2 separate regions of the Homo sapiens genome follow, and region 2 is linked to region 1. The links come from fine-mapping of genetic effects on gene expression. A gene starts in region 1. The other region holds a variant in brackets. All regions are shown on one strand. Distances are between the middles of the regions.

Region 1 (5,392 bases):
GAAGTGACTGATCATAAAAATCTTCCATTTGTAAATTATTTTGATGTAAGAGCGTCCCAAATTCACATTCCAGAGGCTGAAAACTCCATGAGGAAGGCAAGAACAGTGGTACACTGTTCTACCACCCAATGGCATGCAAATTCAAATGGTTACAAATACTAAATGGGAAGGGGGACCGGATTGACCTGATGGCCTCCATTGTAATCACTGTCCCCAGCAATTTCATTGTAAGAAGCATAACTAAGAGCTGGGACGCTAGGGTCTAACTGTGCAGGCTTGAGTGGGCCTTAATTTCTCTGCACCACAGTTTCCCCATCTGTAAGAGGCAGAATCTCCTGTATCTCATGGCTTGTTTTAACAAAAACAAGTCCTCAGACCTGTGCCCGGCTGTGGCAGTGACCACCGACCCCAACATTTGCTTTCCCCTTCCTCATTAGTTCCAAATGGCTTCCATGCTATGCCGAAAAAGCACATTTTAAAAACGCTAAATATTCAAAGCAAGTATTTCTACTGAAATACCGTTGTTTGGTATTTGTGTTCAATAAAATCAAAAGCACGTTTTGTATGGATAGGAGAGTTGACCACAGAAAATATTTTCTTTCTCAATTCATAACTTGGTGGACAATTTAGCTTTAATTTTTATTTTACACATACAAAATATCCATGAAATATTCATAAGTAATGAATAGATTATTTCTTTAACAAAAAGTACTGCCATGACCAAGGTAAGGGAAAAATAACTTCACCTCACTTCTTCCCGCTTGGGTGTGTATTAGTGATGACATGCAACTTCCCGGAACACTAAGTACAGTCACAAACACTTGTCCTCAGTGAAACAGATAGAAAAAAGTGGCTTATAGAAAATCAAATGAAACTAGTATTAAAAAATGAAAACTACATGTATTTCCACTGTGAATAAACTTCCACACAAAGCCAGGTTGCCTAAGCTCATTCTCAGAAGGAGGAATATGATTCATCTATTAAAAGATTAATTCTCACTATTCTAAAAATTAAATAGAACTCTGAGAACAAGGGCACTTCAGTGCTTTCACATTTGGCAATCCAGACACAGAAACTGTGGTCTGGGTAGATTTTTAAGTACAATTGTTTGTACTTTTCAATTGTGTCTACAACCTTAAAGTGAACCGAGGAAGTAAACATATAAAGAGACCTAACTAAAAAAAGCAAAACAGAAACTGTCAAAAATCTTTCATCCCAGTTTTTCTCCATGCCATGGTAAAATCATTCACCACTGTTTGCAGTCAACTCCACTCATCTCTAAATTCTCTCCCTTTCATCTCCTCTACCCTCCAGTGGATGTAAACCCTGATCACTTCTCACTTACTTGTCTGCAAATATATCTTTTCTACAAGTATGTTCTTCAGTGAGTCCTGTACAATGTTGAAGCATACATATCTTAAAAGAAAGATCCTTTCCTAGCACTATGATGATGAAGTTCACAGTGGTTCTTAACATAAAATGTTTGAGAAACATTTGCTTTTTCCCTCCTAGTTTATAATTTATGGTCTTCACTGGCAAAAATAATAATTATATGAATTTGGGAGAATGTCAGAATACCTGAGACGTGACCAATATCATCATAAGCATCTTTACATTTTTTTCAAAAGTCTCCTTAGACTTTCCCTAAATTCTCCCTAGCTAGATACTTCTCATTTCATCTTTTGAGACATTTTTCTTTTTAAAAACTAATACCAAGAGATTAATTTTAGATCCTGGAAAGGTATCTTCTTTTTTCTTATCCAGAAAACTGACCAAGTATTATTAAAAGAAACCAAAGCACCTACCAAGCCAATGAAGCATTAGAAGAAACCAGACCCTAAATAACCAGGCAATGGCTTTGCATTAACACATCAACTTTGAACCAGAAAATTCAGAACTCTTGAAAATATGTTTGTTAGGTCCCCCAGCATGCTAGGCTTCTTTCAAACATTCAGTTAGTTCTGCCACAGACACAATGAACATTTAACCAAACAACTTAAATACACACTGTAGGGTTCCTTTACACACAATCTATTAATTACTAAATACTATTCCAATTCATCAGGCTGTTTGAGTCAAACAGACAAATACTTATTACAAGTCTAATCTCATAAATTGAATATATAATATATTCTTCAATGAAAAATTATAAACTATAAAATAGTATGAATAACATCTAAGTGGAAATACATAAGCATAGAAAAAATTTAAAACTTATGTACCAAAAATATTAACAGTAATTATCTCTCTGCATAATGATGTTCCTTTTTTATTTCTATTTCCAGATTTTTCTATAATGAACATAAAATAAGATAAATAAAATGTATACATTAGCTGACTCTGTAAAACACATCTTTTTGTTTACTTCTTTTTTTAATAATAGGTGTCTCAGCAGGAATAAAAACTGCAACTATTTTTTAAATTTTAACTTTGAAATGCTGTGTTACTATATATACTGAAAAAATATTTGCTTAAACACCTTATATCTTTAATTATTAATCCCCATCAAGGCATGAAGAGTGATATTCTTTGAAATCATTATGACACAAAACATACCTTGGATACTTTAAAAAAAAAAAAAGGCTAGGTACTAAATGAAGATCTTTTCTCTAAAAAATATGACAAATAAATTGCTTAAGAAAGCATACATGAAATTGTATACATTAAAAAAACTTCTTTAGGAGACTTTCATAAAGTTAAACTACTTGCAAACCACAGTTTCATCTACGTCAATATGCAACATTTTAAAACCACACAAAAAGGAAAGGAAATTTTTAGTAAAGCCAGCAGCCTGCAATGGGGTTGCTACTGCTGCGGCTAACCAAACAGCTCATGCTTCTCTGAAGACTTGCAGCAAGGCTTGCTGAGGCTCACAGAAGATAGCCCCAGGTATGTCTTTTTAAACACTTAATATATTCAAATGCTTTTCCGTGGAAAACAAAATTGTGATTTTTCAGTATTTAAGGCTTATAAGTAGAAAAAGCCAAGCTGTATAAAAAAAAAGCATCAATTTTTAAACTCTAAATAGGTCCTAGCTGTGAATGACACTATAATTTTCTTATATCTGATGAACCCATTCATCTGTCTCCAAAAGACAGGATAATTGACACCAGACTGAATACCTGAGCGAGCATAACTATTCAGTAACTCAATCTTATAACTGGGTGGATAGAGGCCATGTTGTAGATCTTCACAACAGGGAACAACAGGCCTTAAGATGACTTTCCTCTACAAACATTACAATAGGTGATTTCAAGAAGATTCCACTGTGATTCCCATAGAAAATCTAATAAGCTTTTATTTTGTTTTTGTTTTGTTTTGTTTTTGAGGAGTCTCGCTTTTTCACCCAGGCTGGAGTGCAGTGGTGCGATCTCAGCTCACTTCAACCTCCACATCCCGGGTTCAAACAATTCTCCTGCCTCAGCCTCCCGAGTAGCTGGGATTACAGGTGCCCGCCACCGCGTTGGCTAATTTTTGTATTTTTAGTAGAGACAGGATTTCACCATGTTGGCCAGGCTGGTCTCGAACTCTTGACCTCAAGTGATCCACCCGCCTCAGCCTCCCAAAGTGCTGGGATTACAGGCGTGAGCCACTGTGCCCAGCCAGTTTATTTATTTTCTAAGCAATGGGCACTCTATCCAAACTACAGAGACAGTTAAAATCTTGTATTGTTGTTGCTGCACTACTTCTGAGTATCTCACATTTTCACTGGTAAGTAACTGTCTGGTAAAATATTTATTAAGCACTTAGTTCTCAAACTTGTGACACAGAACACAGGATGTTATTATACAATATTTTAACCTCTAATTTACATAAGCAAAAATTTTAAATAAACAGATTTGTTTCTCACTGCAATTTAGACAAAAGTTCACAAACACAAATGTGAGAAATGTGAGATGCTCCATGATTCTTGAGAATTACTGAATGATTATTCATTTCAGATAAATTATTCATGTACGGTATATATCGTCAGTTCTAGCTACAGAGAAAATTAATCAAAATAAATTACTCTAATTCTTCTCTTTACCATATACGTCTCATTGATACAACAGACTTATTTTATAGTTGTGCAAGCAATGGAGCACTTAAAGAAACACATTATGTTACCATTATTATGTAATATTTGAAATAGAAGTGCGTAAGCCAAAATCCTAGGGCCTTAGAAAGTAACAATAAGCAAAGATGTGACACTATATCAATGCACACGAATACTAGTTTTTCACATAAAGAAGAAAAGTATGTTCAAAATTCCAAGGTACAAATGGTAACTATCCAAATTCATGGTCGCCAAGGACATCGGTAAAGCCTGGAGTAGCTTTCAGATGTGAGGAGCTTCCTTAAAGCTCTGGAATAAGCAGGATTCAGGAATAGTAAGGATAAATGCAGAGCGCTTAGAAGATGACCAATAAGAACAGATCTTAGTCCTGCCTGAACATGCTGTGAAAGCTTGAGGAACACACCAGTGCCAGCCCTCAATCTCCTCAACTGACTTGGGGATTAGACTACAGGCTATCGATAAAGTTTCCATCCATCCTTAAAATCCTATGACTCCAAAATTTCTATCACATGCAAAAGTATAAAGGCAGGAAGGAACTGTACACAGAATAATAGAGACCCCACCAATCCCAATCTTAATCTGGGATGTAAGTAGAGATGGTAGAGAGAAACTAGGTTATGGAAGCTTTGAGAGCAAAGTTGGTTTAAACTTATTGGATGGGCCTAGGTTTTGTTTTTAAATGTGCGTGTGAGAGAGAGAGAGAGAGAGAGAGTGTGTGCACGTGGTTGTATGCATAGAACAGCAAAATATACGAAAAGCCTAAACTTATATTCTTAGTATTTTGGTAAAAAGTTAAAAATAGTTTATTTCAGCTTTATTACATAAAAATTGTTTAGAACATAGTTCCTGCCCACACAGTAAGCCCTTAGTAAAGACTGGCAGATATAATAATAATCATTATCATTTCTATCATCATCTTACTATTGTTACTGAGGCAGTGTTTTGGAGTGGTTTTGAATGTGATTCTGAGATCAGACTGACTGAGCTGGAATCCTGGCTTTATATCTTACCAGCTACACAACCTTGGGTAAGTAACCCCATTATGCCTCAATTTCCTCATCTGTAAAGCAGGGACAATAACAACACCTAGCTTATGGAAATGATAAGAAGTTAAATAAGTACATGTAAAGTATTTGGCATAGTGCCAGATACAAACCAACTGCTTAATTATTTTCATCGAGTTTGGTAAAGAATGACATTATTCATGGACTCTAACGTGCTAACTCAGGTAGGGAAAGAGAAAGGGCATGTAGCCTTTAAGCAGCACTTGAATTTAGAAAGCTTTGTGTACATCTGCCTTATTCATCTGTTTGCATACATTGTTTCATTACAAAT
Region 2 (5,392 bases), 24 kb before region 1:
TGAAACCCCATCTCTACTAAAAATACAAAAATAAGCCAGGCATGGTGGTGGGCGCCTGTAGTCCCAGCTACTAGGGAGGCTGAGGCAGGAAAATGGCATGAACCCGGGAGGCGGATCTTGCAGTGAGCCAAGATCGTGCCACTGCACTCCAGCCTGGGCGACAAAGTGAGACTCCGTCTCAAAAAAAAAAAAAAAAAAAAAAATTAGCCGGGCATGGTGGCACGAGCCTGTAGTCCCAGCTACTCGGGAGGCTGACGCAGGAGAATCGCTTGAACCCGGGAGGCGAGGTTGCAGTGAGCGGAGATCACGAAACTGCCCTCCAGCCTGAGCAACAGAGCAAGACTCCATCTCAAAAAAAAAAAAAAAAAAAAGAATTGCTGAATTTATAAGTTATTACCACAGTATGTTTTATTAAAATCAAAGAACCCTCTAACAGGGATTAATACACAAAACAGGGAGGAAACATACAACACTTTGGGTTAGAGAGTATATGGGAATCACTTCTGTACAGTATTTCTACTCCCACTTAAAATTCTGGATATTTATATTCTTTTCCTTTGGCTATATAAGCCTGAATCTTGAACAAACACACAAGTGGTTGATATTCAGCTAAGCAGTTAAAGCTGTTGTTTTCTCACACATGGAAATTTGTCTTCATCTTCACAGCAAAGGATAACCACTAATGGTCTAACAGCCCCATGATCTGCAGATCTGAGTACTGCTTGCCTGAGAAATGCAAATACCATCTCAGTGAGGCGAAAAGAGGTCATGGATTCATTTCCTTGCCTGGCCCCAGGGAATAGGACCACATATTCCAAAACAATGCTGCAGAAGAACAGGCTGGAAAAAATTCAGTAATTCAGGCAGCTCAACCTAGTTCCAGGAGAAAAAAGAATTGGTTCCCAAAACCCTGAAGCCAGGAGTGATGCAGAGCTTTGTGCCACTCTCATGAAAGATTAGCATTGTGTAGGGACTGGTAAATTAGAACTGAAACACTCTGGACTTCATACATACACTCTGTTGTTGAGTGCCACTTCCTGTGACTAGAATAGAGGGATCATCAGAAGCAAAACCTCTCCCAATTTGTCCCTTGTTCAAGCACTGCTGGGCCACATACTGGAGGAAGCTCAGAGCACTCTGCAAAGGGTCTACTGTGCCTCCTGCAGCCCTGAATTTCAGTGTAGAAGAGCGTCAACTTAAATCAACTTAAAGAAGAGGGGAAACTGTCAGGAGCCTGATAGTTTATTCTGTTATCAGCTGAGTCACTCCCTGTACGCGCAATGTTCCCACTGAGTCACAGCCTGCCTCACACCAGGTATTTGATTCTTATGGGAACAGGAACCCTAGATGTAGCTGAGGTAGCTACTACTTCTCCCCTCATTTTAGACATGTAAAAACTGATACACAAAGGCAGTTAATAATTATCGCAATATTCTAGCGCCATACATGTAGCCAAGGCCCACTGTATCCCACAAGCATGCATGTAATCATTATGCTGCACTGTCTGTCCTCTGTCCACTATTCCAACAGAGCAGTAAATAAAGCACACTTCACATTCCTAGACCTTAGCATACAGATTACTTACTGCTGATGAGTTATTCAATTACAGTTAAGGTCTGACCCCAACAAGAAAGCTAAATTCTCTTCCTGTATCAAAATCATCTGAAACATACCTACCATTAAGGGGTCATTCCAGTGGTTCTCAAGAAAATTTAGAAATGTGTGGGGACGTGGCTGGTTGCACAAACCATGGCGTTCTACTGCCACCTAGTGGATACAGGCCAGGGATGCGGCTAAACACCCAACAATACACAAGACAGCCTACCCACAAAGAACTGAAACCGAAAAAAACAGTTAACAGTACCAAGGCTGAGAAACCCTGGACTATTCCAATCATTATAGGCAAAAAATTACAGGTCCATCCTGACTACCAAGATGCAGTCCCTAGAGTAAAGGCTAACAGTGGGTGGCCATTTTCCTGGCCCCCAGTTTGCCATTCGGGAAGACTGCATGACTATGTATCCATTGGAGGTCATGAGGTGCCTATGCCACACCTCACCCTCCACTGACAGCTCCCATGATCCATTTGCATAATCACAAAGTGAAGACAGGCTGGAGTTCTTAGACATGCCAATATGCTAGACTTGCAGTCTGCCACAAGCTATGCCAAAAGTGTTTTGAGGGAAGCGATTAGAATACAAAGTAAAGACTATGTTTGGACGTTATCAGTTTATAAATCCAACCTAATCCGTCCCCCCTTACCATTCTCACACATAATCAAGAGTTGGATCTGTTTGTAGCAGAAATTCAGATTTCTTTTATCTTTATGGGTTGTAAAGACTGTGAATACGAAGATCAAGAGGGAATCAAGAGAGGGCCGAATTTATGCTTTGGTGGAGGAGGAAGTTCTTGGGTATCTGCAATTCAGCCTAAGAAGAATATTTAGATATTTCTAATGTGAAAACTTAGCACAGCTCCTCAATGAAAGTATGTGGCCACACCATTCAGCCAATTTTAAGTTACATTAACACATGTTGGTCACTGACCTGGATTCTAACTGAAGGTAAAGTCGATGGGTCACAGCAGCAGGAGTTAGGATCAAGTGACCTGATCTTGAGCTCACATCTCCTGCCAGAGAAAACTGGCTGAAGGTGACAAACAGCAGCAAGCAGAGCTCTCCTTGTGCCAGGGGCCCCAGGGGATCTGCGTGTGGCATCCAAACCACATGCAGCAGATCTGGGTTTCTCCCTGCAGAAGAGTTTCCACCATTTATAGGTTAACGTTACCTGTTGTAATCACCATTCATGATAGTCCGACTCTGTATCTCTCTTTGGATATCAACGCAGGAGATAGAAAACTGAGTCAAAAAATCAGAAACTCATTTTAAATACTTTTAGAAACTGGCAAATCAAAAGGAGGTTCTCTATGCC[G/A]CAGTATCTGGAAGATAACTGAAGAAACTGAAGGCATCCACCTCATGCAAAACCTTAAAACTCAGATCAAAAACAAAAATAATATATATACTCTCAAACATACACACATGCACATTCCTTTCTTGAAAAAAAAACACTGGCTGACTTCTCAAGATGCGACTCCAGCAAAATGTTGAAGGGCCTGTGTAAAGGATCACATTCATATAAAACATGCTGCCCCCACATTCTTTCAGGAGCAGGGGAGCCCTGGCTTGGAATCAATCAGACATTAGTTTGAATACTGTCTGGCTATGTGTTAGGTGCCCTTTGATGAATCACTTAACCATTTTAAGCATCACTGTCCTCATTTGTAACGTAAACGTTTACTCATTGGCAAGATTCCATCATGTTACCCAAGAGCTTAGGCCATCCATTTTCCCCCACTGTGACAGCCTCTCGTGTCAGTCTTGATGCCTGTTCCTATAGCTCTCTCACCCCAAAACTCCTTCCTTCTTCTTTGCCTAGCTAAAGCCAACTCATTTGTCAATCTTCACTATCACATGCTCCAGGAAGGCTGCCCTGATGCCACCATTTCTGAAACTAGATACGTGCTCACTGTGTTCCTGTGCTTCCTCCTTCAATGATGACCCCATGTCATACCTTGAAGTGTCCCTCTGTTCAGCCTCCCCCTAGACTGGAATCTTCCTGAGAGTTCCCTGATGTGTTTCCATAGGGCATGGCAGCATGTTCTGACGGCTTTATAGTGAGCAAATGAACAAAAGGCCTTGGCAAAGGAAGAAATATCAGGGGTACACAGGAGCCAAAGGTTACAATGTACTTTATAAACAGCAGATTTCAACAAGGGGAAATCAATGATATCAAAAACTGCAAGCAAAGAGGTCAGGAAATAGAATAACTGAGAAAAAGACAACAGACTTAGAAATTAGGTCCCTGACAGCTTCTGAGAAGTGTGGTGAGTGTCAAACATCAAATGCTGTGGGTAATGAAAAAAGATAGGGGGTGGGAGAGTTCCTTCTTCTGGGTGAAGGAGAAAGTGAGATTCTCCTTGACTGAGCCTAGACAGGGCACGGACAAGAGTGCCACAGGAATGCAGAACACGGATGAGACAGCTACCGATAGGATCTGACAGAAAGCTGCTACGGTTTGAGTGTCCGTTTCAAAATTCATTTGAAATTGATTTGCCATTGTGACGGCATTAAGAGGTGGTACCTTTGAGAGATGATTAGATCATGATAGCAAAGGCCTCGTGAGCAAATTAATGGTATTACTGCAGAAGTTGGCCCTCTTTTTCTCTTGGTCTCACATGCTCACTTGCCCTTCCACCATGATGCAGCAGGAAGGCCTCACCAGATGCATCCCCTCCATCTTGAGCTTCAGAGAATCCAGAACCATGAGCCAAATTAATTTCCTTTCTTTATAAATGACTCAATACGTAGTATTGTTATAGCAGCAGACAATAGACTAACACAGGAGCTAAGCAGAAGAAGGATTTCTGAGAAATAAGGGGAGTGTAGCCAATTACAGAGAGAGAACAGCAACTTCTGTGAAGTCGAGGGCACCCTGGACAGGTCTATGACTTAGAAACATAGGACATTGTTTACCCAGCCCTAAGGAGTCACAGTGCTGGGGCAGAAAGGCAAGCCCAATAGGCAGGGTGAAAGAAGTTCTAAAATATCCAGCTCTGCTTGGGTAAGAAAAGCTAGGAGGCTGATGACAGAGAGAATTAAATAACACTAGTAAATAATATAAAATATTTTAAAGATGTAAAACGCTGTAAGTTATTTTAGTAACATAAAATGTAATAAGCATGTTCTGATGGCTTTAGTGAGCAAATGAACAAACGGCCTTGGCAAAGGAAGAAATATCAGGGGTACACAGGAGGCAAAGGTTACACTATATAAACAGCAGATTTCAATAAGGGGAAATCAATGATATCAAATGCTGCAAAGAGGGTCAGGAAATAGGATAACTGAGAAAAAGACAACAGGCTTAGAAATTAGGTCCCTGACAGCTTCTGAGAAGTGTGGTGAGTGTCAAACTTTAAATGCTCTGGGTGATGACAAAAGATAGGGGGTGGGAGGAGGATTCCTTCTTCTGGGTGAAGAAGAAAGTGAGATTCTCCTTGACTGAGCCTAGAGAGGGCACGGACAAGAGTGCCACAGGAATGCAGAACACAGATGAGACAGTTATTTGTAAATTATTTTAGTAACATAAAATGTAATAACACAACTATAAATACACGACACATAAATACTATGAAAACCGCATAGGCGATCACATTGACACCAAAAAAAAAAAAAGTGTTAAACATTAAGGCATGAGAGATTAAAGCAGCAAGAAAATGGCTTCAGTAAGTTTAAAAATGTATAAATGATTACATACATCTATACTATTTTCTATTGATACAGAATCAGCTAGAAAACAAGTATTTATCTCATAGAAAAAGATCCAGAGCACTGTGT

The links. PIP is the estimated chance that this variant, and not a neighbour inherited with it, causes the effect.
Region 2: its variant is fine-mapped to the expression of GPR171 in whole blood (INTERVAL, PIP 0.91).

Annotation. Positions count from the first base shown.
Region 1 is chr3:151,200,601-151,205,992 of GRCh38, reverse strand. It overlaps GPR171 (G protein-coupled receptor 171), which reads left to right and starts at 2,777. Exons shown (of 3, transcript NM_013308.4): 1 at 2,777-2,889; 2 at 4,996-5,084. The region is part of intron 16 of MED12L (mediator complex subunit 12L); the gene reads right to left.
Region 2 is chr3:151,224,285-151,229,676 of GRCh38, reverse strand. All of the region lies in intron 16 of MED12L (mediator complex subunit 12L), which reads right to left. All of the region lies in intron 1 of P2RY14 (purinergic receptor P2Y14), which reads left to right. Among named protein-coding and RNA genes, the nearest start is that of GPR171, 24 kb to the right of the region's middle. The variant G/A (reference allele first, on the strand shown) is at 2,931.